Homo sapiens: one gene and its partners. The protein of the gene in region 4 purifies or fractionates together with the protein of the main gene of each other region. This does not show direct contact. Each region holds a gene or a part of one and is shown on either strand. Other genes may lie near its edges.

The links.
Region 1: the proteins of DEF8 (region 4) and ATG2B purify together in Homo sapiens (affinity purification with mass spectrometry; 2 studies listed by BioGRID and IntAct, with this or other methods). This does not show direct contact.
Region 2: the proteins of DEF8 (region 4) and ALMS1 purify together in Homo sapiens (affinity purification with mass spectrometry; 2 studies listed by BioGRID and IntAct, with this or other methods). This does not show direct contact.
Region 3: the proteins of DEF8 (region 4) and EIF2AK4 purify together in Homo sapiens (affinity purification with mass spectrometry; 2 studies listed by BioGRID and IntAct, with this or other methods). This does not show direct contact.
Region 5: the proteins of DEF8 (region 4) and MCM8 purify together in Homo sapiens (affinity purification with mass spectrometry; 2 studies listed by BioGRID and IntAct, with this or other methods). This does not show direct contact.
Region 6: the proteins of DEF8 (region 4) and APAF1 purify together in Homo sapiens (affinity purification with mass spectrometry; 2 studies listed by BioGRID and IntAct, with this or other methods). This does not show direct contact.
Region 7: the proteins of DEF8 (region 4) and WDFY3 purify together in Homo sapiens (affinity purification with mass spectrometry; 2 studies listed by BioGRID and IntAct, with this or other methods). This does not show direct contact.

What each region holds. Positions count from the first base shown.
Region 1 is NC_000014.9:96,314,842-96,318,341, forward strand, and holds part of ATG2B (autophagy-related protein 2 homolog B), read right to left. Parts: intron 3,015-3,500; coding exon 2,857-3,014; intron 2,477-2,856; coding exon 2,304-2,476; intron 1,843-2,303; coding exon 1,692-1,842; intron 743-1,691; coding exon 543-742; intron 394-542; coding exon 313-393; intron 1-312. UniProt on the Homo sapiens protein: Lipid transfer protein required for both autophagosome formation and regulation of lipid droplet morphology and dispersion.
Region 2 is NC_000002.12:73,392,336-73,395,835, reverse strand, and holds part of ALMS1 (centrosome-associated protein ALMS1), read right to left. Parts: intron 1-3,500. UniProt on the Homo sapiens protein: Involved in PCM1-dependent intracellular transport. Required, directly or indirectly, for the localization of NCAPD2 to the proximal ends of centrioles.
Region 3 is NC_000015.10:39,932,910-39,936,914, forward strand, and holds the start of EIF2AK4 (eIF-2-alpha kinase GCN2), read left to right. Parts: upstream 1-1,205; 5' UTR 1,206-1,286; coding exon 1,287-1,430; intron 1,431-4,005. UniProt on the Homo sapiens protein: Metabolic-stress sensing protein kinase that phosphorylates the alpha subunit of eukaryotic translation initiation factor 2 (EIF2S1/eIF-2-alpha) in response to low amino acid availability.
Region 4 is NC_000016.10:89,958,755-89,962,254, reverse strand, and holds part of DEF8 (differentially expressed in FDCP 8 homolog), read right to left. Parts: intron 3,242-3,500; coding exon 3,100-3,241; coding exon of another isoform or gene 3,020-3,099; exon of another isoform or gene 2,889-3,019; intron 1,325-2,888; coding exon 1,160-1,324; intron 519-1,159; coding exon 391-518; intron 244-390; coding exon 130-243; intron 1-129. UniProt on the Homo sapiens protein: Positively regulates lysosome peripheral distribution and ruffled border formation in osteoclasts. Involved in bone resorption.
Region 5 is NC_000020.11:5,967,652-5,971,151, reverse strand, and holds part of MCM8 (DNA helicase MCM8), read right to left. Parts: intron 3,323-3,500; coding exon 3,127-3,322; intron 1-3,126. UniProt on the Homo sapiens protein: Component of the MCM8-MCM9 complex, a complex involved in the repair of double-stranded DNA breaks (DBSs) and DNA interstrand cross-links (ICLs) by homologous recombination (HR).
Region 6 is NC_000012.12:98,665,790-98,669,289, reverse strand, and holds part of APAF1 (apoptotic protease-activating factor 1), read right to left. Parts: coding exon 3,499-3,500; intron 3,101-3,498; coding exon 2,933-3,100; intron 1,778-2,932; coding exon 1,646-1,777; intron 1-1,645. UniProt on the Homo sapiens protein: Oligomeric Apaf-1 mediates the cytochrome c-dependent autocatalytic activation of pro-caspase-9 (Apaf-3), leading to the activation of caspase-3 and apoptosis. This activation requires ATP. Isoform 6 is less effective in inducing apoptosis.
Region 7 is NC_000004.12:84,963,891-84,968,172, forward strand, and holds the start of WDFY3 (WD repeat and FYVE domain-containing protein 3), read right to left. Parts: upstream 2,801-4,282; 5' UTR 2,319-2,800; intron 1,969-2,318; exon of another isoform or gene 1,726-1,968; intron 1-1,725. UniProt on the Homo sapiens protein: Required for selective macroautophagy (aggrephagy). Acts as an adapter protein by linking specific proteins destined for degradation to the core autophagic machinery members, such as the ATG5-ATG12-ATG16L E3-like ligase, SQSTM1 and LC3.

The DNA of each region.
Region 1 (3,500 bases), on a different chromosome or scaffold from region 4:
AGGTGCATTCCACCACGCCCAGCTAATTTTTGTATTTTTAGTAGAGACGGGATTGACCAAGCTGGGCTCGAACTCCTGACCTCAGGTGATCCACCTGCCTTGGCTTCCCAAAGTGCTGGGATTACAGGCATGAGCCACCGTGCCCGGCCAATACTGTTCTATTTCTTAACCTAAAAGGTGGTGACACCGTAGTATTCACTTAATGATAATTCACTGAGCTGAACATTTATGACTTACAAACTTTTCAGTATGTGTATTAGATGTCAACACAAATTTTTAAATAAATTAATACATATATAACAGCTCTCTTACCTGCTCATGCCAGCTAAGCCCAGAAGGAAGCATTCTATGCTGGAGAGTGGCTCCTTTCAGTCCTACGGCAATGAGAAATTCCTATACAGAACAAGACAAAGAATGACATTTACCACCTATGTAATCCTATAACTCAAAAGTTTTTCCAAGAAAATAAATATGTTGCCTTTTATGTAATTATTTTTAGCTAGAATCAAATCAACAGTGGCATAAAAGTACAAAACACAAACCTTTGTATTGGACTCTGATTTATCAGACAATATTTTAACGGCAACAGACAGCATATTCAAACTGTCTCCTCCAACTCCATCTGAAGAAGTTTTACTGAGGCCATCTTCTTCAGAGGAATAAATAGTAGGTTCCAACCAGTGTGGGCGGGTTGAGCTGGGAAGTCGTGTTTCTGTCGGGAGAATCACTCCATTCACTATGCCTAGAGATCCACATTGAGGTAAAAATAGTAACAAAATGATTACTTGAAATTAGCTAATCAACTTACATGACTCAAAACAAAAATCCACGTACTTCCACTGAATATAACTTAAGGAGGCATGATGACAAAAACCAGCATGGCATTAATAATCCACTCCTCTTTGCTAATGTTAGTGTGACTGACCGTACACAGCTTAAAGAAACAAAAGATTCTGAAATGCTAGGAAAATTAAATAGAAAACTATCACAAACATCTCATGTCTATGAAACAAGGTAAACTCAGGTAACTGCTCAAAAAATGGTAGGTTCTATATCTGGAACCAAAAGGAAATATTCCTTAAAGAAGAATAAAGAACATATAGTCCCATCGACTGATGAATGGATACATAAGATGTGATCTATCTTTACAGTGGAATATTATTTGGCAATAAAAAGGAATGAAGTACAGATACAACTTGGATGAACTTTGAAAGCGTGTCAAATGAAAGAAGCCAGTCAAAAAGGCCAAATATTGTATGATTCCATTTATAAGAAACTTCTGAATATGCAAATCCATAGAAACAGAGTGTAGGTTAGTGTGTTTACGGGAAGGAGAGAGCGGAAGGGGTGAAAGTTTATCACTAAAGTGTATGAAATTTCTTCATGGGGTAATAAACATGTTTTAAAATTGACTATGGTGACGGTTGCATAACTCTTGTGAAATACTAAAAACCACTGAAAGGTACACTTTAAATGAGTATGGTGTGTGAATTATACCTCAACAAAGCTATTGCAAAAAAAGAACCTGAAGTTGACTTCTAATTTGTAAATATTACTTTGACAGCAGAATGAGAGCCCTCCACAGAAAATAATTTCTAATACCAAAGTTCTGTTCTCAATAGATTTTCTTTGTTAAACAAGAAATTTAAACATGTCTAAAGAGAAGAAACCAAGACACGTGTTTGTCCTACCTTTATGGTACAGACTGAAACTGCTAGAATGAAGGCAAATGTAGTGCTTGTCATCAAAACCTTCATATTTTGTCACACAAAATAATGAACCACTATTGAACTCTAACCAGAATTCACCATGCTTGTTTTCCAACAGATCTCCATTATCTTGCTAGTAAAAAGATCAGAAAAACACAGAAGTTATTACTTAAATGCAGAAAAGTAAGCATGTTCCTTGAGATGCTCTTTGTTGATTCAGCTTAGGAAAATCTCCCATACTGCAGCAAAGCAGTCTAATCCTTGAACTATTCAATATCATGGTATAAAATAAAACTGGATAACTTAAATGCTATGTGGAACCTCTTCTATCAGATGAATCTCTGTACTTTGTTGTCACCCCAGAAGCAGAATTAGCACCTGTTTTCCAAAGGGAGAGCCCCACAAAGTTTGATCTGCAACGAAAGCTAAATCCCCAAAGTTGCTATCATCATGGTTTGCCCCAGGACACTGGTCTTCATCAGTCCCTGAAACAACTTCAAAATATCAAATACTTCAATCACTAGATATGTATCCTAGCAGATTTATTTAAAGTAAGATACATTTGAAAAAACACTTCGGATTTGTAAACCTCACCTTCACATCTGTGAACACTGCTATTAATCCATGATTAATATTCAGAAGAACTGAGAGAAAACTCTGAGAGTTCTTGTTCTGAGAGTCTAATTTTTTTTTCCTGCGAGAACGATAGTTGGGATCAACAGTGGAAAAATACTGCAAAGTCTCCTCCTCAGATCCACTTTCCTCATCTATGAGAAATAAACATACAATTACATTCTGATAGCATATTAAAACAGCAACATAAAAATGATCATGAAAATATTTTATATAACCTGCTTAGTTTTACAAAGAATATGGTGTGAACACAGAAATACATACTGTTTTTCTCTTTAGCTTTGAACTTCAAACAATGTGCACACTATCATTCTAAAGAGAACATATTTAAGTGATAATGATATTCTCAATATACAGATAGAAATAAGGAAATATTCTTATAAATTACTAAAAGAAATTGCAAAATATAGTTACAATGAAACATAAAGATTTTTAAATCCACAATTCAAAGGTTAGTACTTTGTTAATTGATAAACTAGGCATTTTAAATCAAAACAAATTAAAAATATATTACCATAGTGAACTGCAGATTTAAATGCACTAAAACTATCTTTGTTGAAAGTATTAATGAGCTGACTGGCTACTGAAAGCCCAATGCCATAGGAAATATTCTCGAATGTCTCCACTGGTGAAGGAGCTGTTGGTTCCCACAGTAGCAAGTCATTAAAGATCCTATAAAGACAAAAGTTGAAAAATAAGTACTTAACTCCTAGTTCAACAGAAGGCAAACTTAAAAAAAAATCCTTTTAAAAGATCGTATGAACAATAATTTTTTAAACGGCAAAATGGAAATTAGATCCTACAAGAATTTGGAAAAACAACAAAAATAACAACTGCATTCTTTCAATGAAAAAATAACTGATATGGCTATAATGCAGGGCAGTGACAAAAGAATCTGCACAATTAGATACCTAAATAGATACTTGCCTAATTTTACCTATGTTATATACATCAAATTACAAATTCATATTACATTTCAAAATATACCTTAGAAACAGAAGCTCATGAAAAATAAAAACCCACAAAGAACAGAAAAGGAGGACGGCTCACCTATATGAGAGCACTTTGTAAACTGGAACTGATCCTGCATCATCTCACTGACCCTCCCCTCAGTCCTGTGGGGTGTCCAGGGCAGAATCATTATTCTCACTTTACACC
Region 2 (3,500 bases), on a different chromosome or scaffold from region 4:
CCCTCCTATTGAATATTTTACTAAAGGTTCTAGCCAGGGCAATTAGCCATAAATAAATACATAAAAGGCATCCAGATTGGAAAGAAAAAATAAAGCTATATATATTTGCCCTTGACATGATCTTTACAAGAAAATCATAGAGAACCCACAAATAATCTACTAGGATGAATAAACAAGTTCAGAAGAGATTCAGAAACAATATTAATATATATAAAAATCAAGTGTTTTTAAACATCTACAACGAATAACCCAAACATTCAATTAAGAAAAATAATTCCACTGACAATACCATTAAAAACAGTATTTTGAAGAATTTAAGAAAAAAAGTGCAATTCTGAAAACTATAAAACATTATTGAAATTTAAAGAAGATCTAATTACAGTTGTATGCCACATCAGAACATTTCCATCAACTACAGACCACATACATAATGGTGGTCCTATAAGATTATAATACCGGCCCAGCATGGTGGCTCACACCTCTAATCCCAGCACTTTGGGAGGCCAAGGTGGGCAGATCACTTGAGTCAGGAGTTCGGGACCAGCCTAGGCAACATGACAAAACCCCATCTCTACTAAAAATACAAAAATTAGCCAGGCATGGTGGCACACACCTGTAATCCCAGCTACTCAGGAGGCTGACATGAGAATCACTTGAGCCTGGGAAGCGGTGGTTGCAGTGGGCGGAGATTGTGTCACTGCACTCCAGCCTCGGTGACAGAGCGAGACTCTGTCTCAAAAAAAAAAAAAAAAAAAAATATATATATATATATATACACATATATATATATACACACACATATATATACACATATATATACACATATATATACACATATATATATACACATATATATGTAAAATACCATATTTTTACTATACCTTTTCTAAGTATTTGTGTTAGATACACAAACGTATCCAACACAAATACTTACCACAGTGTTACAACTGCCTACAGTATTCAGTACTGTAACATGCTGTACAGGTTTGTAGCCTAGGAGCAAACAGTTAGACTATATAGCCTAGGTGTGTAGTAGGCTATGCCATCTAGGTTTGTGTACGTACACTATATGATGTTTGCACAACAATGAAATACTGTAATGAAACATTTCTCAGAATGTATCCTCATCATTAATTGACACAACTATAAATGAAAGGATATCCCATGTTCATGAACCAGATGATTAGGCCAGGCACGGTGGCTCACGCCTGCAATCCCAGCACTTTGAGAGGCCAAGGCAGGTGGATCACTTGAAGTCAGGAGTTCGAGACCAGCCTGGTCAACATGGTGAAACCCCGTCTCCACTAAAAATACAAAAATAAACCAGGGATGGTGGTGTGCATCTGTAATCCCAGTTACTGGAGGCTGAGGCAGGAGAACTGCTTGAACCCAGGAGGCAGAGGTTTCAGTGAGCTGAGATTGCACCACTGCACTCCAGCCTGGGCAAGACACCATCTCAACAACAACAAAAAAAAGGACCAGATGATTTAATATCAAGATGACCATACTCCCAAATTGATCTACAGATTCATCACAATCTCTATCAAAATACTAGCTGGCTTCTTTGCAGAAACTGACAAGCTAATCTAAAATTCATATGGAATTGCAAGGGGCTCCAGAATGGCTAAAATATCTTGAAAAAGGAAAGCAAAGTTGGAGAACTCCCCCATTTCAAAACTTACTATAAAGCAATATTAATCAAAAGAGTGTCTCCTAGTCAGGCATGGTGGCTCACGCCTGTAATCCCAGCACATTGAGAGGCCGAGGTGGGCAGATGGCTTTAGCCCAAGAGTTTGAGACCAGCCTGGGCAACATGGTGAGATTCCATCCCTACAAAACCTACAAAAATTAGCCAGGCATGGTGGCATGTGCCTGTAGTTCCAGCTACTTGGTAGGCTGAGATAGGAGGTCCACTTGAGCCCAGGAGGTGGAGGTTGCAGTGAGCCGAGATTGCACCACTGCATGCACTCCAGCCTGGGCAACAAAGAGACACCTATCTCAGAAAAAAAAAAAAAAAAGTGTTTCCTGGAATAAGGTGGGCATATAGATCAATGAAATAGAATTGGGAATCCAGAAATAAACCCATATATCTATGGCTAACTGATTTTCTACAAGGGTACTAAGACCAATCAATGGGGAAAAGAACAGCCTCTTTAACAAATGGTGCTGCAGAAAGACAAACTGCCTATTCTTCCAAGTGGGAGCTAAACAACAAGTACATGTGGAAGCAGAGTATGGAATGACAGAGAGTGGAATCTTGGAAGGGTGGGGAGTGTGAGAGTGGGGTGGATGAAGAGAAATTACTTAATGAGTACAACGTAGGCTACTCCAGTGATGGATACACTAAAAGCCCTGACTTTACCGCTATGCAATATATCAATGTAACAAAATTATACTTGAACTCTATAAATTTACACAAATCAATAAAATTTAAAAAAAAAAACAGTGCTGGATAGTCACATACGAAAGAATAAAGTTTGAACCCTTTCTTCATATCGTATACAAAAATTAACTCAAAATGGATCAAAGACCTACATGTAATAGCAATACTATAAAATCTCAAAGAAAACATAGTAGGTCCTCATGACCTCACATTTGTCAAGGGACTGTATCTTGTCAATCCCTTGATTGATAAGGGATTATATATGTAATATGCATATATATAAAGAATTCTTACAATCCAATAGTAAATAGACAAATAACCCAATTAAAGAATGGGCAAAAGTTTGACCTGAATAGATATTTCTCCAAAGAAGACACACAAATGGCCAAGAAGCACATGAATAGATGCATGAACCATAAGGGAAATGCAAATCAAAACTACAAAAAAGTCAGGTAATAACAAGTGCTGATAAGGATGTGGAGAAACTGGAACTCTCATACACTGCTAATAGGAAGGCCACTTTGGAAAACAATCTGGCAGAAACTTAAAAGGTTAACAGAATTCCATATGTCCCAAAAATTCTACTCCTAGATATACATCCAAGAGAAATGAATCCATATGTCCACACATACACTTATATAAGAATGTCTACGGTAGCATTATACATAATAGCCAAAAAGGAGGAAAAAAAACATGTCCATCAACTGATGAATGGATATACAAAATATCACATATCCATATAATAAAATATTATTCAGCCATATAAAGTAATGAAGTACTGATACATGCCACATCACAGGTGAATCCTGAAACCATTAAGCTAAGTGAAAGAAGCCCAGTCACAAAAACACATATCATTCCATTTATATGAAATGCCCAAAATAGGTAAATCTATAGACAGAAGGTAGATTAATAGTTGCATATGGGGAATGGAAGACGGGGGATATCAGCTAAAGTGTATGGGGTTTCTTTTAGAAGTGATAAAATGTTCTAAAATTGACCGTGATCATGATGGCACATATCTATGAATATACAGAAAATGACTGAATTGTGCACTTTAAATTAAAGGTGAATTGTACAGTATATGAATGATATCTCAAAAAAGCTATTAAAATGT
Region 3 (4,005 bases), on a different chromosome or scaffold from region 4:
TCTGGCCAGAAATGAGTGGATAGATGGCAGCAAGGAATTTACACAATCATTATTTAGTGAACAGTGGAGGAGTAAGCAAGGTAGACAGAAGAAACGTCACTTAAACCTAACTTGGGTTAGTACAATAGGATTATTCGAAATGGACATGCAGCATTAGTAAGTTACTGAAGATGAAGTGCAATAACAATGTCTGGGTAGACAGGTTATTATTTTATAAACTTGAAAAACGACGACTTGAGGCAGGATATAACACAAAGACTCCCTAAATTCACACTGAGTGAACTGGGAAGGGAACATGATTCTCTTCATGGGAAGGTAGCTCATAAAGATGCCTGAGTGGAAAGACAGTTTTCAATTGAATTTGCAAGGTGGTAGTGGAGATCCCCAAAGCTGGGGAATGTAGAGACAGAGAACATAATGAGGGTGTTGAATCTGTGGCTCAGAGAATAAGTTTGGGGGTACTAAAGTGGGAGGAAGGAGGGTGGGGGGGGTCACAATTTTTACTCCCGGTAGTCTTGTTCTGGGAAGGTACAAGGTGAAATTAGAAGTGACCTCAGAACCCATCGACGTCTGCCCTTTAAGAGTTTCCCGGCCGGGCGCGGTGGCTCATGCCTGTAATCCCAGCACTTTGGAAGGCCGAGGCGGGCGGATCACAAGGTCAGGAGATCGAGAACATCTTGGCCAACATGGTGAAACACCATCTCTACTAAAAATAGAAAAATTAGCCGGGCGTGGTGGTGCGCGCCTGTAGTCCCAGCTACTCTGGAGGCTGACGCAGGAGAATCGCGTGAACCCGGCAGGCGGAAGTTGCAGTGAGCCGAGATCGCGCCACTGCACTCCAGCCTGGGGAACAAGAGCCGAAACTCTGCCAAAAAAAAGAAAAAAGAGTTTCCCGCACTAGCCATGCCAGGGTGGAGAAGTTCCAGCAAGCACTTCTGTTAAAGATACTTGTTTCGTGAAAACTATACAATGTGGCGTTTTCATTCCTATCTGTGATTCATTTCTTAAGTTCGTGGAGTTCCTTTGCTCCCCTTCCCCCAGCAGGATGTGGGCAAAGCTGTCCCCCTGCCTTCTTCCTTCGCCTGGGCTTCTGGAGCCTCCGGAGCTAGCTCCCGGCGCGGAGCTCCGCCTACGGCCCGTCCCCGGCGCGGAACCCCGCCCACGAGCCCGTTTCCAGCGTGGAACACCGCCCATAGCCCGTCCCCAGCGCGGAGCCCCGCCCCGCAGGCTGCCGGGGGCCCACCGCCGCCCAGGCAAGGCCGCCCTGCCTTGGGCGCAGCGCTGCCATGGCTGGGGGCCGTGGGGCCCCCGGGCGCGGCCGGGACGAGCCTCCGGAGAGCTACCCGCAACGACAGGACCACGAGCTACAGGCCCTGGAGGCCATTTACGGCGCGGACTTCCAAGACCTGCGGCCGGACGCTTGCGGACCGGTAGGAACGTGGCTTGTCAGGCCCGGGCTGGCGTGCCCTGGCCTCCCCGGGCCCTGGGCCAAAGCCCGGACACTTCCAGATTGGGCCGCCGCTTTAGGATCCTGCAGTCTTTTCATCCCTTAGGTTCCACCCATGCTCACTTTAGTCCTTGCACCTGCAGCTGGTCTGCAGAATCCCACCTAGGCCGAATTCTTCTACAGTCCTTTCCCCATGATTTCCCCAGAGGAATCCCCCTGGATTCCTCCCTCTTACCTGGCACTGCTTCTTATTCCTGCCTACATCCCATAACATAACTGCCTCCTTCCAACCTTGTCCTTTTTCCCCTCTGAAAGCCCTTGCGGATGATACCACAGCAATTCATACGCGCCCCTTGCTACTTTGTTCTGAGAACGCTTTTTGGGCTCTCGCACAGGCCTTACGTCCTCAATCAGAATTCTCAAGTCTCATCCATGCATTCAAATCTGCACGCCACATAATTCCCTCTGTACTCCCCAGGCATCCTCACTGTGTTTTCCGGTATGGAGGAACTTTCCATACCTCTGCACCTTCCTCTAAGACATTTAGCTCAGAATAAAGCACACATTCATCTTAGCTGTAGTAGAGAGAGGGTTCTAGACTGAGTCTAGAGAAGGAGTGTCCAATCTTTTGGCTTCCCTGGGCCACACACAAAATACACTAACACTAAGGATAGCTGATGACCTAAAAGAAAAAAAAAATTCGCAAAAAAACCTCAATGTTTTAAGAAAGTTTACGAATGCGTGTTGGGCCACATTCAAAGCGGCCCATGGGCCTCGGGTTAGACCAGCTTGCTCTAGCTCTAGACCTTTTAAAATGGCATTTTGTTTAAAATAATATTTTGCCTTTTTGTCTGGAAATTAAGGCACGTTATAAAGTATTTATACTGACAGTTTTTTCCCCATCCTTGAAGAGTTGATCTACCAAACTATTTCTGAATATTATCATATTATCATTTAAAACATAGTTCTAACTTCATCTGCTTTTTTTTTTTTTCTTTTTGAGACAGGGTCTTGCTCTGTCTCCCAAGCTGGAGTGCAGAGGCATGACCACGGCTCACTGCAGCTTATTCTCAAGCAATCCTTCTGCCTCAGCCTGTCAAGTACCTGGGACTACAGGCACATGCCACTACACCTGGTTAATTTTTTTAATTTTTTGTAGAGACAGAGTCTTGCTCTGTTGCCCGGGCTGGTATCAAGTTCCTGAGCTCATGCAATCCTCTCACCTTGGCCTCTGAAAGTGCTGGGATTACAGGTGTGGGCCACCGCGCCTGGCCTCTTCATCTGCTTTTAACTTTGGCATTTCACAACATCTGCTCTATCTACACATCCAGGATTTCCTCAAGAAATACCATCTTCTGGAGCTATCAGGACAAAATATTCTCTCTCAAACTCAGGGTGCTTCTTCCTTCATTAAATATTTGTTTTAGGCATTAGGAATACAGCTGTGGGCAAAACAGACAAAAATCCTTGCCCTCAGGGAGCTTACTTTTCTAATGCTTAATAATATGAAGTTATTTTTAACCTGAAATGGTAAAAATATAAATTATTCCCCTTAACATGACAGAGAAGTTGGTGACTGGGGAACTTCTATCTTCCCAAACCTTGAGAATCAGGAAGTAGGCCCAAGAAGCAGCCAAAATAGGTGTCTCAAAGTGTACATGGGACTCAACACAAAGCTCCTAAGGCTTCATTCTGAACTAGTTTGTTTACTTTATACAAGCTTAGTTGTCTGCTCCTAGGGCTGCAGAAAAATGGAAGAGAAAAAGCAACTTCTTTTAGGTAGGGATATTGATAACCTCAAGAATTTATAGCTGGTGGCTTTCATAACAAGATGGAATACTAGACAAACCAAAGCAAAAACTATAGAAGGCAGGCAGAAGAATTTAAATAGCTGTCTGTGGCCTATTGTACACCGGGCAAATGGCCTCAACACATTCATAGGACTGGCAGGCAAATAATTGATGGTCTCAAGGATGAATCAGAGTTTAGTCATTCAACAAGCACTTATTATCACCTGCTATTTGCCAGGGAAAAGTGATGCAGGTCCAAAATCCTTTATCCAAAACTCTTTATTGAGAGGGAGTTTCTCTCTGTCGCCCGGGCTGGAGTGCGGTGGAGCAATCTCGGCTCACTGCAACCTCCACCTCCCAGGTTCAAGCGATTCTTGTGCCTCAGCCTCCTGAGCAGCTGGGATTACAGGTACCCGCCTCCACACCTGGCTAATTTTTGTATTTTTAGTAGAGATGGAGTTTCATTATGTTGGCCAGGCTGGTCTCGAATTCCTGACCTCAAGTCCTCCCGCCTCGCCTCCCAAAGTCCTGGGATTACAGGTGTGAGCCACCGTGCCCAGCCTTTTATCCAAAACTCTTGAGACTTGATGGGTTTCAGAATTCAGAAGTGCTTCTGTTCACGTTTATGTGTGCACATTCCACACATTACCTAATACCTTCCTCAGTGTCTGGGGCAGCATCGAAAATCAAACACAATGAAACATAGAAATACTCAAATTTCACACTGAACAAATAAACACTATAACTAACCTCATGTCAGTTCAGGCT
Region 4 (3,500 bases):
CCTAAGCAGGTGGCCTCCCTCCTCTGCTCAGAACCTCCCGTGGCCCAGAGGAGAAGAGGGTACTGGCCCGGCCCTAGGGCCCACCTGACACAGCGCCCCCGCCCCCCACTTCCATGGCCCCAGCCTCACGCGAATCTCCACCAGCTCCTCCACGTAGCTGAACAGCAGAGGGTTGATCTCCCGGAGCCTGAGTACGGGCCGAGACACCATCAGCGCCAGGTAGCGCATGCTGCAGCGAGAAACCTGCCAGGCACGGCCGGGTGACACCTCTCACACCCACCCAGGGCCCGTGCAGCGGGCAACACCCAACCAGGGGTACACCGGCTCCACACCCCAACCCCCTTCCTGCTCTCCCTCCCCAGGGGGATGCCCCCACCTTCCAACCCCCACCTTTCGAGGCTCAAAGTCCCAGTTGTGTACAACGCGTGCAGGGATCACAGCCAGGTCGTTCCAGTGGCAGTGGCTGCAGTAGTACTGGCCGGTGTAGTCGCACTGCCTGGCCTCACTGGGCACACCCCCTGCAGGGTCAGAGGGGCCCTGAGTGTCCCTGCCTCACAAAAACCCCACACAGCTTTCCAGCCTCATGGTCTGTCCTCCCATGGACCACAGCCCTCGGGGAGACATGGGAACATGTCCTATCCTCAGCCGGAAGACCTCAGGTGGTCCCAGCGTCTCACTGACCTGTTCTCTTATCAGTAAAATGGGATATAAACAGGGCCTCACTGTAGGACCGAGGCAGGGACTTCATGAATTAACACCAGCAACTCTCTAGAAAGAAGAGCTGACGCGCACATGTGCACAACTGGGCGACAACCGTGTACTCTCCCTAGACCCCGTCTATGAGGCTTTCTGTGCTGTGTGACTTCTCCCTAGTCCTCATCTATGAGGCTTTCACACGGGGAGGCGGAGGCCAGGTCCCAGCCCTCCAGGTGCTCCTCAGTGACCTGGGTGAGTCACGGAACGGCTGGAACCTCAGTCTGCTTCAGTGAGAAATGAAACAATGGCAGCAACAGACCCTTGTCACTTCCTAAAGATATCAAGCAGGCACTGCCCCAGGGCCTCACTCAACTGTCTGACTTACGTGCCCTTACACACCTGTGCACCCGGCTCCCCGCCAGGAACAGCTCCCTCACCCTCTTCTCTCCCTGCCACCACTCACGCAGAGAGATGGGCGCCCGGCACTCGGCACAGCGGTAATCCTGGCTGTCCAGCCCTGTCTCAGGGCAGATGTTCAGTTCGTATTCAGCTTGGTGGCTGACTTTGGAGCTCACACAGGGCTTGGAGATGAGGTTCAAGCACTTACTGTGACAGCGGTAATAACACCCTAGGGTGGAGGGACACACACTTCTCAAAAGCGGGAAGGGTGCGCCTGCAGCCCAGGCCACCCTCAGCTGGCTTGCCCCCTCCCCGTGGGTTCCACTCTGAGGCCCAGATCAATCTAAGACCTCCTGGCACCAAGGGAGGCCTTAGAACCTCAAAGATCCTTTTCTCCCTGGCCCCTGAGCCTTGCCCCAAAGGTGGCCCAGACCTTGTCCTCCAACTTGACTCACATGTTTGGGGCCAACCTGCCACTCCCACCACCAGACCCAACCTGTCCAAATGTAACAAACGAAACTCCCACCCCCGACCCCAAGCCCCTCAGCTTCCCCATCTCGGTTTCAGCAGCTCCACCCTTTCAATATCATGAGTTATCCTGAAGGGTTTCTCTCTCTCTGTTTTTGTTGTTGTTGTTTTTGTACTTTTTAAGAGACAGGGTCTTGCTCTTTTGCCCAGGCTGGAGTGTAGTCGTGCAATCAGAGCTCACTGCAGCCTCAGACTCCAGGGCCCAAGCGATCCTCCCATCTTTGCACTGGAAAACCCTAGGATTACAGGCGTGAGCCACCGCACTCAGTCAGACTATTTTCTAATCTGTTACATTCCGTTTCCAAACCTTCAGCTGGACTGCCCTTAGCGACTCCTCACTCCCACCACCTACCCCAGCCCAATCAGAGTCATCCCCCTCTTCTCAGTCACCTCCCTCTCAGTCCAAGCTCAGTCAGCAGCCACAGTAACCTATTAAAGCTCAAGTATGTCCAGCACCCACTTGTGGCCCCCACTGCACTTAAAGAAAAGCCCCAGCCACCTCTGAGCCCACCTCCCCCAGAAACAGAACTGCAGCCCCACCTGGCTCTCTGCTCCTCCTTATATCAACCACAGGGCTGCCCCCACCGGAACATTCCTCCAGACACAGAGCTGCAGCCACACCTGGCTCTCTGCTCCTCCTTATATCAACCACAGCACTGTCCCCACCGGAACAGTCCTCCAGACACAAAGCTGCAGCCACACCTGGCTCTCTGCTCCTCCTTAAGGCACTGGACACATCAACCACAGGGCTGCCCCCACCAGAACATTCCTCCAGACATATTGTCTTGGCTTGCTCCCTGACCTTCAAGTTTTTGCTTAAAAGTCACGTGACGCCGGCTGGGCGTGGTGGCTCACGCCTGTAATCCCAGCACTTTGGGAGGCCGAGGTGGACGGAACACAAGATCAGGAGATAGAGACCATCCTGGCTAACACGGTGAAACCCCGTCTCTACTAAAAAAAATACAAAAAATTAGCCGGGCGTGGTGGCGGGCACCTGTAGTCCCAGCTACTCAGGAGGCTGAGGCAGGAGAACGGTGTGAACCCGGGAGGTGGAGCTTGCAGTGAGCTGAGATTGCACCACTGCACTCCAGCCTGGGCGATTGAGTGAGACTCCGTCTCAAAAACAAAACCAAACCAAAAACAAACAAAAACAAAAAACAAAGTCACGTGATGCCTTTACATTCTGCCCTAAAGTCACATTCACTCCACCCTAACACGTGCTAGGTCCTTTCCCTTTTTCTTCATTGTACAAACTAGACACACCATGTAATTCACTAGTTTAATTTCTCATCCAGAACAGCCCTGTCCAATGTAGACAGTACAACGAGGAAATGCATATTTAGTTAATTTAACTTTGACTGGCCATGTTTGGCTAGTGGCCACCACACTGGATAGCTCACATCTGAATGTGAGCCCAGCGGAGGCAGGAACTTTGGTCTCTCTCATTCCTCACTCCTCGTCTGGGTCTCGGCCCACCTGTGCAGGTGTACCAGGTCTGAATGAGCCCCCAGATGATGGTGTTACACTTGTCACAGGTCTGCTTGACGCTCTTGCTCTTCTCCTTGTAAAAGCGGTGCTCAAGGAGCACTCGGATGTTTGGCTCATCCTCATTGGGGTCCTGCAGAGGGTGAGTCAGGGAGGGGGTCACAGGTGAGCTGGGCTGAAGTTCCTTTCCCTTCGCACAAGCCCCTCAACTTATTTCTTCCAGGCACCATTTAGGGCAGAGATTGTGAGTTTCAGCACAATGCCATGTCCCTTTTCTCCCTTTCACAGTAAACAATGATCAGCTGGACAAGGACCGCCAAGGTCACATGCTACCTTTCCCAGCATCCCTTGCGACCTTTCCCAGCATCCCTTGCAGCGAGGGGCTGTGTGGG
Region 5 (3,500 bases), on a different chromosome or scaffold from region 4:
TCTGTTTAAATGGGTGGGGGGCCTTGGAATTTTATTTTTGGTTTACAGGTTCATGCCTGTAATCCCAGCAAGCACTCTGGGAGGCCAAGGTGGAAGAACTGCTTCAGCCCAAAAGTTCAAAACTAGCCTGTGCAACAAAGTGAGACCCCGATATCTATAAAAAAAAAAATTAAAAATTAGCCAGCCATGGTGGCATACACCTTTAGTCCTAGCTACTTGTGAGGCTGAGGTGGGAGAATAACTTAAGGCCAGGAGTTTGAAGCTACAGTGAGCTCTGATTGTGCCACGGCAATCCAGCCTGGGCAACACAGCAAGACCCTGTCTCTAAAAAAAATTAAGAGAAAGAATATAAAACAGTACATTTACATTTGTCAATTTTATAAACAAGGAACAAACAAAAATAGGGTGGGAGAGAAAATCAGGAGTAAAACATGAGTCTTTATTCCCTTTTAATATATGTAAACACAGAAGGAGGTGGTGGTGTGCTCATATCCCCTTGGCACTCACTGTTCAGTATGTTCCGGCTTCCTACTGGCATCTGCACCTGTCTGCCAAAGACCTTTCTATGGCCACACAAGCATCATTGGCAGGCAGGATGGGCAGGCCAGAAGTGCTGAGGTGTTTAATACTCCTGGGGGCAGTCCCAAATGTAGGCCCTTAAATGGAAAAATACTGAAGCTGGCTTTCCACAGTGGAGTTTTCCACTGGCCCAGGAGGATTATGTCCCAGATGCTAGTGGGTCACCTGTTCGTTAAGGCACCTACACTGGCTGCCATCATTTCCCTACCAGTAACTCCAGAATCACCTCCCAAGTAAACTATGTTGATCCAAATCATTGCTTCTGAAGGAACCTAAACTAAAACATAAACTTCTACTGTCACCTAGGCTGGGTTGACAAACTTTTTCTTAAAGGGCCAGAAAGTATTTTCAGCTTCACAGGCTATACTGTCTCAGTCACAACTATTCAACTTGTAGTGTGCAAGCAACTGTGAACAGTAATGTAAGTAAACTGGGTGGGGCTGTGTTTTAATAAAATTTGACTTACAAAAACAGGCAGCCTGCCTAGTTTGCCAATCTCTGCTAGACTGATAATAGAGGACCATGAAAAATTCTAGTTTTGATGCTGAAATCACAAACATGGAGGGGGAAAAAGCAAACTGTGGGAAGAAAACTAAAGTTTTCCATACTTACTCTTCTATAAGTATGGGAGAAGAGGGACCACTAAAAATGTTCAGTTTTAATTTACAACTGTTAAGAGGAACCAAAGATGTTTGGATTGTCGACCAGGTTGCTTCCTTGGCCACCTGCTCAAAGGACTCACTCCAAGACCACCCCAGCAACGCTAAGTTAGAGCAGCCTCTCTTCCAGGGTGGGTCTGAATGGCTTTTATTCAGAGGGAAGTAGGATTTAAGGACAAAAAACCCCTGTGGAGCACTATTCTTTACTCAGTCAGCTAATTAACATATTAAAGCCAGAAAGAAAAAGCATCAAATCCTCTTACAGACCTGAGCCTACTGAACAGAAAAGCATGACAAAATCACTTTTTTTTTTTTTTTTTGTGAGACAGAGTCTTGCTCTGTTGCTCAGGCTGGAGTGCAGTGGCGCGATTTCAGATCACTGCAACCTCCGCCTCCCAGGTTCAAGAGATTCTCCTGTCTCAGCCACCCAGGAAGCTAGGATTACAGGCACCTGCCATCATGCCCAGCTAATTTTTCTATTTTTAGTAGAGACAGGGTTTCACCATATTGGTCCGGTTGGTCTCGAACTCCTGACCTCAGGTGATCCACCCGCCTCGGCCTCCCAAAGTGCTGGGATTACGGGCTTGAGCCACTGTGCCTGGCCAAGATCACTTTTTATAATACAATGCATTTCAAAACGTTCTCAGTTCTTTACCTCTCTTAGATATATCTATTATTCAGTCTCTCTCATTTTCTCCTATTTCTTCAAAATTACCCCACAGTTGTCAAAAAATTATCAAAAGTAACAGTATGTTGCAGTAGTTATGTTAAGTACATTATAAAATCCCACTTAATCTTTAGAACAACCTTCTGAGGTAAGTCTTATTATTTCCATTTTAAGGTGATACAAATAAAGGGGAAATTAAGTAATATGTCCCAGATCACACTGGAAGTAAATGCCCAAAGCAGGAGTCTAACTTAGGTTTGTCTCCAAAGAAAAGCTCTTAACCACTAAAGCAAAAAATGCCTATACTTTGCTGCTTCTCCACGGCATGGCAATAGCATGGAAATAAAATTATCAAATACTTTTTGAATATATGTTAATTCGATTTGAATCTCTATGAGCAACACCCTACACAGAACTAATTGAAATGGCTTTGGAATTCACTGTTCCCTCACTCTTCCGTTGAGTGACAAACTTCTTGTATAAGATAGTAAATATTCTGTATTGTTTAAACTAGAGATCAGCAAATTTTTTCTATAAAAGGATAAAGCAAAAATATGTGAGCCATATATATGTTCTCTGTCACAACTATTCAACTCTGCCACTGTAGCACAAAAGCAGCACACTTATGTAAATGAATGAGTGTGGCTATGTTCCAATAGAACTTTATTTATGGACACTGAAATCAGAATTTTTTTTTTTTTAAAGACAGAGTTTCACTCTTGTTGCCCAGGCTGGAGTGCAATGGCACGATCTTGGCTCACTGCAATCTCCATCTCCCGGGTTCAAGTGATTCTTCACTTCAGCCTCCCGAGTAGCTAGGATTACAGGCGCCCGCCACCAAGCCCGGCCAATTTTTGTATTTTTAGTAGAGACAGGGTTTCACCATGTTGGCCAGGCTGGTCTCGAACTCCCGACCTCAAGTGATCCGCCTGCCTCGGCCTCCCAAAGTGCTGGGATTACAGGCGTGAGCCACCATATCCAGTTGAAATCTGAATTTCATATAAGTTCATGTGTTGTGAAATATTCTTTTAATTTATTTCAACCATTAAAAAATATAAAAACCATTCTTAGTTCATAGGCCATACTCAAGGGGATGGAGTACTGTATTTGGTACATGGACTGTAGTTTGCCGACCATTTTGACTAGTTTTTTGTTACCTGTAGCCAAGAGAACCCCCAACATGCATCTATGTAATAAAATTTCAAATGACAGCATACATACTTGACAATGAGTTTAAACAGGTTTTCTTCAGCTTGAATCTCTTGGATGGCATAAAGGTCTTTAAGTGAGAACTCCATCAACATTCCATGCTTACACCCATCCTCAGAACTCTTTGTTTTCTGTCCTTTGCTATTACTAATAGAATTTGCTTCAATATACAAAAGGAACATACACTTGTCATTCTTATTTCGAGAACCTGTAAATTAAAAGTGTTAAATACAATAGTTGGTATTTTCATTTTCCCTACAATGACTCAACTAGAATATAAAACAAAGTCATAGGGAGCTACAAATACATGTTTTTTTAAAAGGGAATGTTTCATCTTATGTAAGCAACAAGAAATTCCTCAAATTATTTGAGGTTCAGGAGCATCT
Region 6 (3,500 bases), on a different chromosome or scaffold from region 4:
AAAAAGATGCATTGGCTCAGTAATTCTACTTCTCGGAATTTGCCAAGGAAACAACATAGGTACAAAGATAAACAAGAATGCTCATTACATCATAAGGACCAAAAAAACTGAAAACCTAAATGTTCGATAACTAGAGTTTGGTTAAGTAAATTAGGGCACAAGTATTTATTGGAATACCATCATTCCAATATACACTATTAAATGTAAATATATTTTGCTAGATAAAAAAACAAACTACAACAATTTACTATGTATCATAACCAAGAAATAACATACCTGAGCATAGAAAATTTACTGAAAGTACATATGGTTTTCCAAATGTAAACATTTTTAGTAGCTACTTGGTAGTCATGACTTCAATCAAATACCATCTATGTGCTAATAATTCCTTATTTTCATCTTTCATCTATAATTCTCCCCAGAATTCTAGACTCATATATCTAACTGCCTATTCAATATTTCCAGCCAGATGCCTTAATAGGTATATCAGACTTAATATATCCAAAATGAGTTCTTAACCATCCCCATTCTCTGCAGGAAAAAGCTTGTTCTCCCAAAGACCCCTGTTTCAGTTCATGGACTCCGTTCTTTCCACTGGGGTTTGAGTCATCTTTGATTCTTGGAGTCATCTTTGATTCTTCTCTTTCTCGTATAATGCATACCAAACCCATAAGCAAATCATGATGATTCTACCCCTCTATCATCACTTTCTTTCCCCTTCCATGCTCTGTCCTTCTTCTGAGCACTTAACTACCCACTGAAATATAATAAATTTGTTTAATGTCTGCCTCCTCCCAGAACATAAACTCGTGAGAGCAATGACTTTGTGCCTGTGCTTTATCCTCTTAATGAAGAGCAATATACATAACAAGCACTCAATAAATATTTATTGAATCAATGAATATACTTTTCCACTATCCATTTCCTCTCAAAGCTTACAAAACAAATCCATACTGCCCAAAAAGGAAAGCTACTAGTAAGAAGAGGATTAATTCTGAGGTGGTTCATTTACTAGTTACTAAGGTACCTTTTCTAATCACTACAGGTAAAAACAAAAATAATTATGCAAGCTATAATCCCATTTTTACTAATAAAAAATTATACTAATAAAACAATACATGTTTATGAACAGGACAGCAAAGCAAAATACCAAACAACGACGACAACAACAGTGGTAAATTTAACTACATAAAAATTCAAATCTTCAGCCAGCCGCGGTGGCTCATGCCTGTACTCCTAACACTTTGGGAGGCTGAAGCGAGTGGATCACTTGAGCTCACGTCAAGCTCAGGAGTTTGAGACCAGCCTGAGCAACATAGTGAAACCCCATCTCCACCAAAAATACAAAAATATTAGCCAGGCATGGTGGCATGTGCCTATAGTCCCAGCTACATGGGGGGCTGAAGTGGGAGGATCACTTGAGCCCAGGAGGTGAGGGTGTAATGAGCTGAGATTGTGCCACTGCACTCCAGCCTGAGAAACAAAGTGAGACCCTGTCTCAAAAAAAAAAAAAAAAAAAAAAAATCAAATGGAAAGCAATATGAACAAAATTCAAGACAAAAAATAACAGAAAAAAAGCACTTATTTGTAATACATATGGAAAAAGGGAAGTCAGATAAAAGAATTTTTAAATGGGTCATCTTACCTTGTGCATCTTGGCACTGGCCATGTGATAGGCCAGAAAGTTGTACCAATACATACAGTCTTCCTGATCTGGTGAAAGAGTATGCGGCTGGTGATATCTCTGAAACTGAGTGATTATCTTCTTATGTAGATCCTGCAACCCAATGAAACGTTTCAGAAGCCAGAAACAATTTTATAACCTAAGCATCACAGTAACTTCAGCTTCCAAAGCTATTAAGAATGTACAGAGAGGCCGGGCTCGGTGGCTCACGCCTGTAATCCCAGCACTTTGGGAGGCCAAGGTAGGAGGATCACTTGAGGCCAGGACTTCGAGACTAGCCTGGGCAACATAGAGAGATATCCGTATATTTAATTTTTTTACAAAAAATAAAAAATAAAAAAAATCAGTCAGGTGTGGTGGCATATGCCTGCAGACCCAACTACTCGGGAATTAGCTACTCAGGACCAACCGAGCCCAGGAGTTTAAGATTGCAGTGAGCCACTGCATGCCAGCCTGGGCAACACAGTAAGACCCTGTCTCAAAAAAAAAAAAATACATATATATATACAGAGAATCTCCCCACAAAATAATGACTTTACAGTGCAGAAACCTGGCAGATACCACTTTAAACAAATTATCAACATTAACATCACCCATAATAAAACATATCAACACCAGGAGTCTGGGAATAGTGGCTCATACCTACAATCTCAGCACTTTGGGAGGCCAAGACAGGTGGATCACTTGAGCCCAGGAGTTCAAGAACAGCCTGGGCAACATGGCAAAACACTATCTCTACAAAAAATTTTTTAAAAACCACCAAGTACTCTCAGCCTATGACGCCACTGAGAAAGATACAACATCATTGGTATTCTTGCCAAATATCTATAACTTCAATCTAGTCAGGAAAAACATCACACAAAACCAAATTTGGGTATACTGTACAAAATTACTAGCCAGTACTCTTCAAAGGTGACAAGGCCATGAAAGATAAAGACTGATAAATTTTCACAGATTTGAGGAGACGGAAAAAAATGACAAGTAGGGAAACAAGACAATCATATGCAATACGGGATCCTAAATTGGCCTGGACTACAAAAAGAACACGTAGGTTAGTGAACAGTATTGTATCAATGTTAATTTTCTGGCTTTAACAACTGTACTATGGTTATATAAAATGTTAATATTAGGGGAAGCTAGGTGAAGGACTTATGCACAGAAACTATCTACTATTTTGTAAATTTTCAATAAATCTAAAATTATTTCAAAGGAAAAAGGAAAAAAAAAAGTAAACCAAGATGCAAGTACCTGAAGCTGGCTGCAATTCTTCTCTGTAAGAAAATCTACTTGAAGATCATGTAAATAATAACGAAACGACTTTCCATTCCGATCACAGAATAAAAGAGACTTATTTACAAACTCCTGCAGTATGTCTTCAACTTCTTCAGTTTCCATGTCCCAGAGAATACATAACACCTAGGAATTGTTGTAAGTATTTAATATGCCACAAAAGTACAATGACCAGGACTGTAGACAGGTATTATCACACACACAAAAAAACGGTATCTTAAAGCCCTGAGTAAGAATGTCTCCATTTCTTAAGAAGAAACTCAGCTACTCCTCAAGATAGAAAAGAGAAAGAGAAGTCAGATGCTTCTTCAGCTGCACTAGAACCACAGAAATAGGTTAACTCCTGAGTTCAACACAAAGCCCTTAATGGAAGCTAACAGCAGAGGGATTTCTACACCCAACACCCCACCACCTCAGTCCCCTGGGTCTTATCCTTCCAAGGTTCTCTGTAACAACATGCTCAGTACTATATCAAAGCTTACATGCAATAAATACCCAATGATGAGGATCATTGATCCCATTACCT
Region 7 (4,282 bases), on a different chromosome or scaffold from region 4:
GAAACAACGTCTATGTGCTGAACTCTTAATCACAAACATTTCTTGGGCATAATCAGAAATGAAGGACATAAATCATCAAATGTAATTTAAAAATTTTAGCTTTCCAAATATGGAATATGTATTCTTTAATTTTATATCTAGAAGTTCATAATCTTTTACAGACCCATATCCTTTTGAGAATGTGATCACCCAACAGAGTCTTTATCTAGGAAAAAAGCAAATATATGCTATATTCTGCATATGATTTCTGGGAAGCCAAGGACCCTCAGAAGTATATGCATGAAATTAAGAAAGAAGCAGGGCATGGTGGCTCACATCTGTAATCCCAGCACTTAGAGAGGCTAAGGCAGGAGGATCACTTGAGGCCAGGAGTTCAAGATCAGCCTGAGCAACACAGGGAGACCCTCATCTCTACAAAAAATAGAAAAATTAGACAGGCATGGTGGCATGCACATGTAGTCCTAACTTCTTGGGAGGCTGTGGGAGAAGGATCACTCGGGCCCAGAAGTTCAAGGCTGCAGTGAACCGTGATCGTGCCACTACACCCCAGCCTGGGCAACAGGGCAAGACCCTGTCTCTAAAAAAAGAAATAAATAAATAAATTAAGAACAACTGATGTAAACTTTTAAAATTGCAAAGTTGAGCAGTGGAATTTAAGAATCTCTTCAAAGCAGAGAATCCAACTAATATTGAAATATACTGTCATTTACTTTTTCAAAAACAGATTATGCAAGAGTAGAACATTGTATTTTCTAACTTATCCCTCCTTTTTGGAGGTGATACAAATTTTTTGAAACATTTTTTTTTTTCTTTACAAAAATTGTTTTCTCTTTGTTGCCCAGGCTGGTCTCTAACTCCTGGCCTCAAGTGATCCCCCAGCCTTGGCCTCCCAAAGTGCTGGAATGACAGGCATGACCCACTGTGACCCACCAAAAGCATACATATATTTCAGATGAATCCATTTTAACTCATGGAAAGAAACTAGCAGTAGAAACCTCTTTCTAGCAGCTTGAGATAGAATGGTTCAAAGTATTAACATACTTTACTATTGCTCAAATATCATAGGAAGAGTTCTCAATTCTAATGCAATATATATTTTTAAACATAAAAACATACCAACCTAATTCCTATACTTAAGAGTCTCATGATAAAGTTTTATTTTTTTTAAAGTCGGATTTTTTTACTAGACTTATGCACTAATACAACATGTTTTTCTATAAATTAGCACATTTTTAGTTCTGTTTTATGTTATGTTTGTTACGTCGCCTGATAGTCGAAACCAGTTGTTCTCAACCTGCTACCAAATACCAACCTGGAAATATGCCACTATTTAAAAAGCCCGAAGAATAGGGTTTTGTTTTTCCTTTTTAATTGTTTGGTGTTCAAACTACATAGTAAACCAGTTGGCAACCATTACTGAACAAAAATAGTTTTTCGTATGCATGAGCACCATTTTCCAACAGAAAACACTTAACCATTTTTAAGGTACTGGAAGTCCATGCAAGGGTTCACATATGCAGTAAATATCCTTTCAATCTGGTTGTATCACATTGTTTCTGTGAAAGGAAGACCTGATATTGCAGATCTCACAATTAAATGGTAAAAATCAATGAAAAACTGCACCTGAGGCTCAAACACTAGCCAGATGGCCTTTGGTTGGAAAGGTCTCATCTGCTTCTTAAATCCCGCCGTAACTGTGAATGTTTGCGATGCCACCACATCCCCAGTACAAGAGAACTGGAGCATCTCTGGCTCCTTCCATAATCGAAGGGCTTCCAGCGTAGGGCGTAGGGGGAGAGGCCCGAAGCCCTGGAGACAGCGCCCGAGGGATGGAGGCCGCGCTCGGCTGCGCTCAGGTCCGGGTGGCTCCGGGAGCTGAGACCCCGCAGGATGCAGCGGGGGGGGGCCAGGGCCTGATCCCCTACCCCTGCGAGCCAGGGCCGCCTACGCCCCCACTGCTTCCCACAGGTAACGTCCAGCCCTCTCCTCCCCTATCCCCCGAAATATCCCGGTTCCGCTCCGCTCCGCTCGCCGCCCGTGACCCCGACCCCGACCCGTCCGCGACGGCGCCCTCCCCAGGAGGCAGCGGAGGACTAGGGCCAGGCCGCCCACCCTGGCGGCGGCGGCGGCTCCCGGCCAAGGCGGACCCTGGGGAGGACAGCAGCTGGGCCGCGGCCTGTCCCTAGGGGGAGCGGGCGCAGGGCCGCGAGTGGGCAGCGCCTCCGCCCCGCACGAACAAAGCGGCCAGGCGCGCCGGGCCGAGGCAGCACCGCCTCTCCGGGAGCGCGGGGGGCGGGGAGGATGGCGGGGGTACTCACCTGAGGGCCGGCGGAGGGCGCGGGCGGGACAGGCCCAGGAGACGGGACCGCGGCGGGCCGGGGCTCCGCGCCGAGGGCGCACGGGCTACGGGGAAGGGGCGACCGGCGCGACGTCCGCGGCGGGGCCCGGGAGCCCCGCGCCGCGGGCCGGGGGCCGGGGCCCGAGCTCGATTCTGCGGCCGCGAGGTATGGGAACCGGTCCGCCGGGCCAGGCAGCGGTGCTAGGCAGCAGGGGCAGCGACGCCGCCGCCTTTCCCTTCTCCTGCCCCCGTCCCTGCTCCGCCGCGTCCTCGTCCTCGCTGGGTCCCCGCCGCCGCCGCCTCAGCCTCGGCGCTCCTCGGGTTTCTTCTCTCCATCAAGGCCGGGCCGACCCGCAGGGACCATCCCGGAAAGTGAGGGGTTGTTGCCGTTTCCCGCAGCTGTTGGTGGCCATCTTTAATCCTCCTCCTCCTCCTGCTTTCTCCACCTCCCGCTGGCTGTCTGACTGACTGACTGGATCCTCCTCTTTCCCCTCCTGCTCCTCCTACTGAGCCGGCCGCAGAAATTGCAGCCGCTCAGCTTCTACCCCCTCCTGCCTTTCCTTCCTCTTTCCTTACTTCCTTCCCTTCCCTCGGCTTCCCGCTCTTGCCTCACTCTCAGCGGCTGCCTTCGCCCCTGTCTGCAGACAGCGCCGCTGGATGCTCCCAGCTGGACTTCAACCCCACTCCTCTCAGTCCCTCTCCCCACTGCCTTCCAGACGCGCCTCTTCCCCGCCCCGCGCCCCTCTCTCCTCTCCCACCCCTGCCCCTCTCCGCGGCGCTCACCCTCCTCAGTCCCAGTTTCTGAAAGGACTCAGCTGAGAAAGGACAACTGGGTTCCGCTTTCCTTAACCCTACACCCTTTAGCTGGATGCTGTCAGAGGCGATGGAGAAACGCAAAGGTGCGTTAATTTTACTCTAGCCAGAGTATAAAAGAACTGCCCACGCCAGCTATTGTACTACGCAGCTTCGAAACTCCTGCACGCTCTCCTGTGTGGCTCCCGTCCGTGATGGGACTGTAGTTGAGGAGCTCGGTCTCAAATGGTGCCTTCCGTCAGTGACCTTGAGTCGGTTGCCTAAGATTTTAGATTTTCCTTTTCCTTCCTGGGAGGGGCATTATTTATACCTTTGCAGTCCCACAAACAGTGTTTAGACCAAATAAGTATCCTTTAGTAAACCTAGAACTGCCAAGTGATCATCATTTTGCCCGTTTGTTCCTACTCAACCCAGCAGACAATTTGGGTCACGCTTCAGTTCTGGCAGTAAAGACAAACTGAGTCAGCAGTTAGGAGTGGACTCCCTTAAACAACAGAGTTAGAGTGGGGAAGTGGTCATAACATCGCTGTAATCACAAACTTGTTTTTCCTAACACTGCAATCTACAGAAGTTTCAGGATTTCCTCTAATAAACATAAGGCAAGTTGGATTTGCTGTTTTCTTCTTTTTGACGATTTTGCCTTTAGAGTTGGACCCATTTGTAATGATTTACTCGTCAATTACTCCAAGATAACAAAGTTGGAGGTAACATTGCTAACAAACACAGGTGATATATATGAGCACTTTGTGGGGGGGGGGTGTCACAGTTTTTCTTCTGTGGGGCACTGGCTATTAAAAAAAAAAAACACCTTGCCCTTTCAAAATAAGACTAGTGTGTTCAAAGGTTAGTCCCTTAAACAGACCAAATGTGGGCAGAAATGTTTTTAAATGTAGTTTTAGATTCTACTTCAAAATGAGTAATGTTTTGAAAGTTCAAATATAAGATTTTGTAATTATAACAATTTAAGAGTTTCAAATCTCTTTGAAAAGAATATGCCAAAACAAACCTAAAAATATATTTTAGTAAAAATACCGGTATCCTTTGGTGGGGGGCGGAGCAGAATTCTAATATTTAATCCTCACGAAGTAACCTTAATTAACTGTTAGGTTCAAGATTTCAGTTGCCATCTTT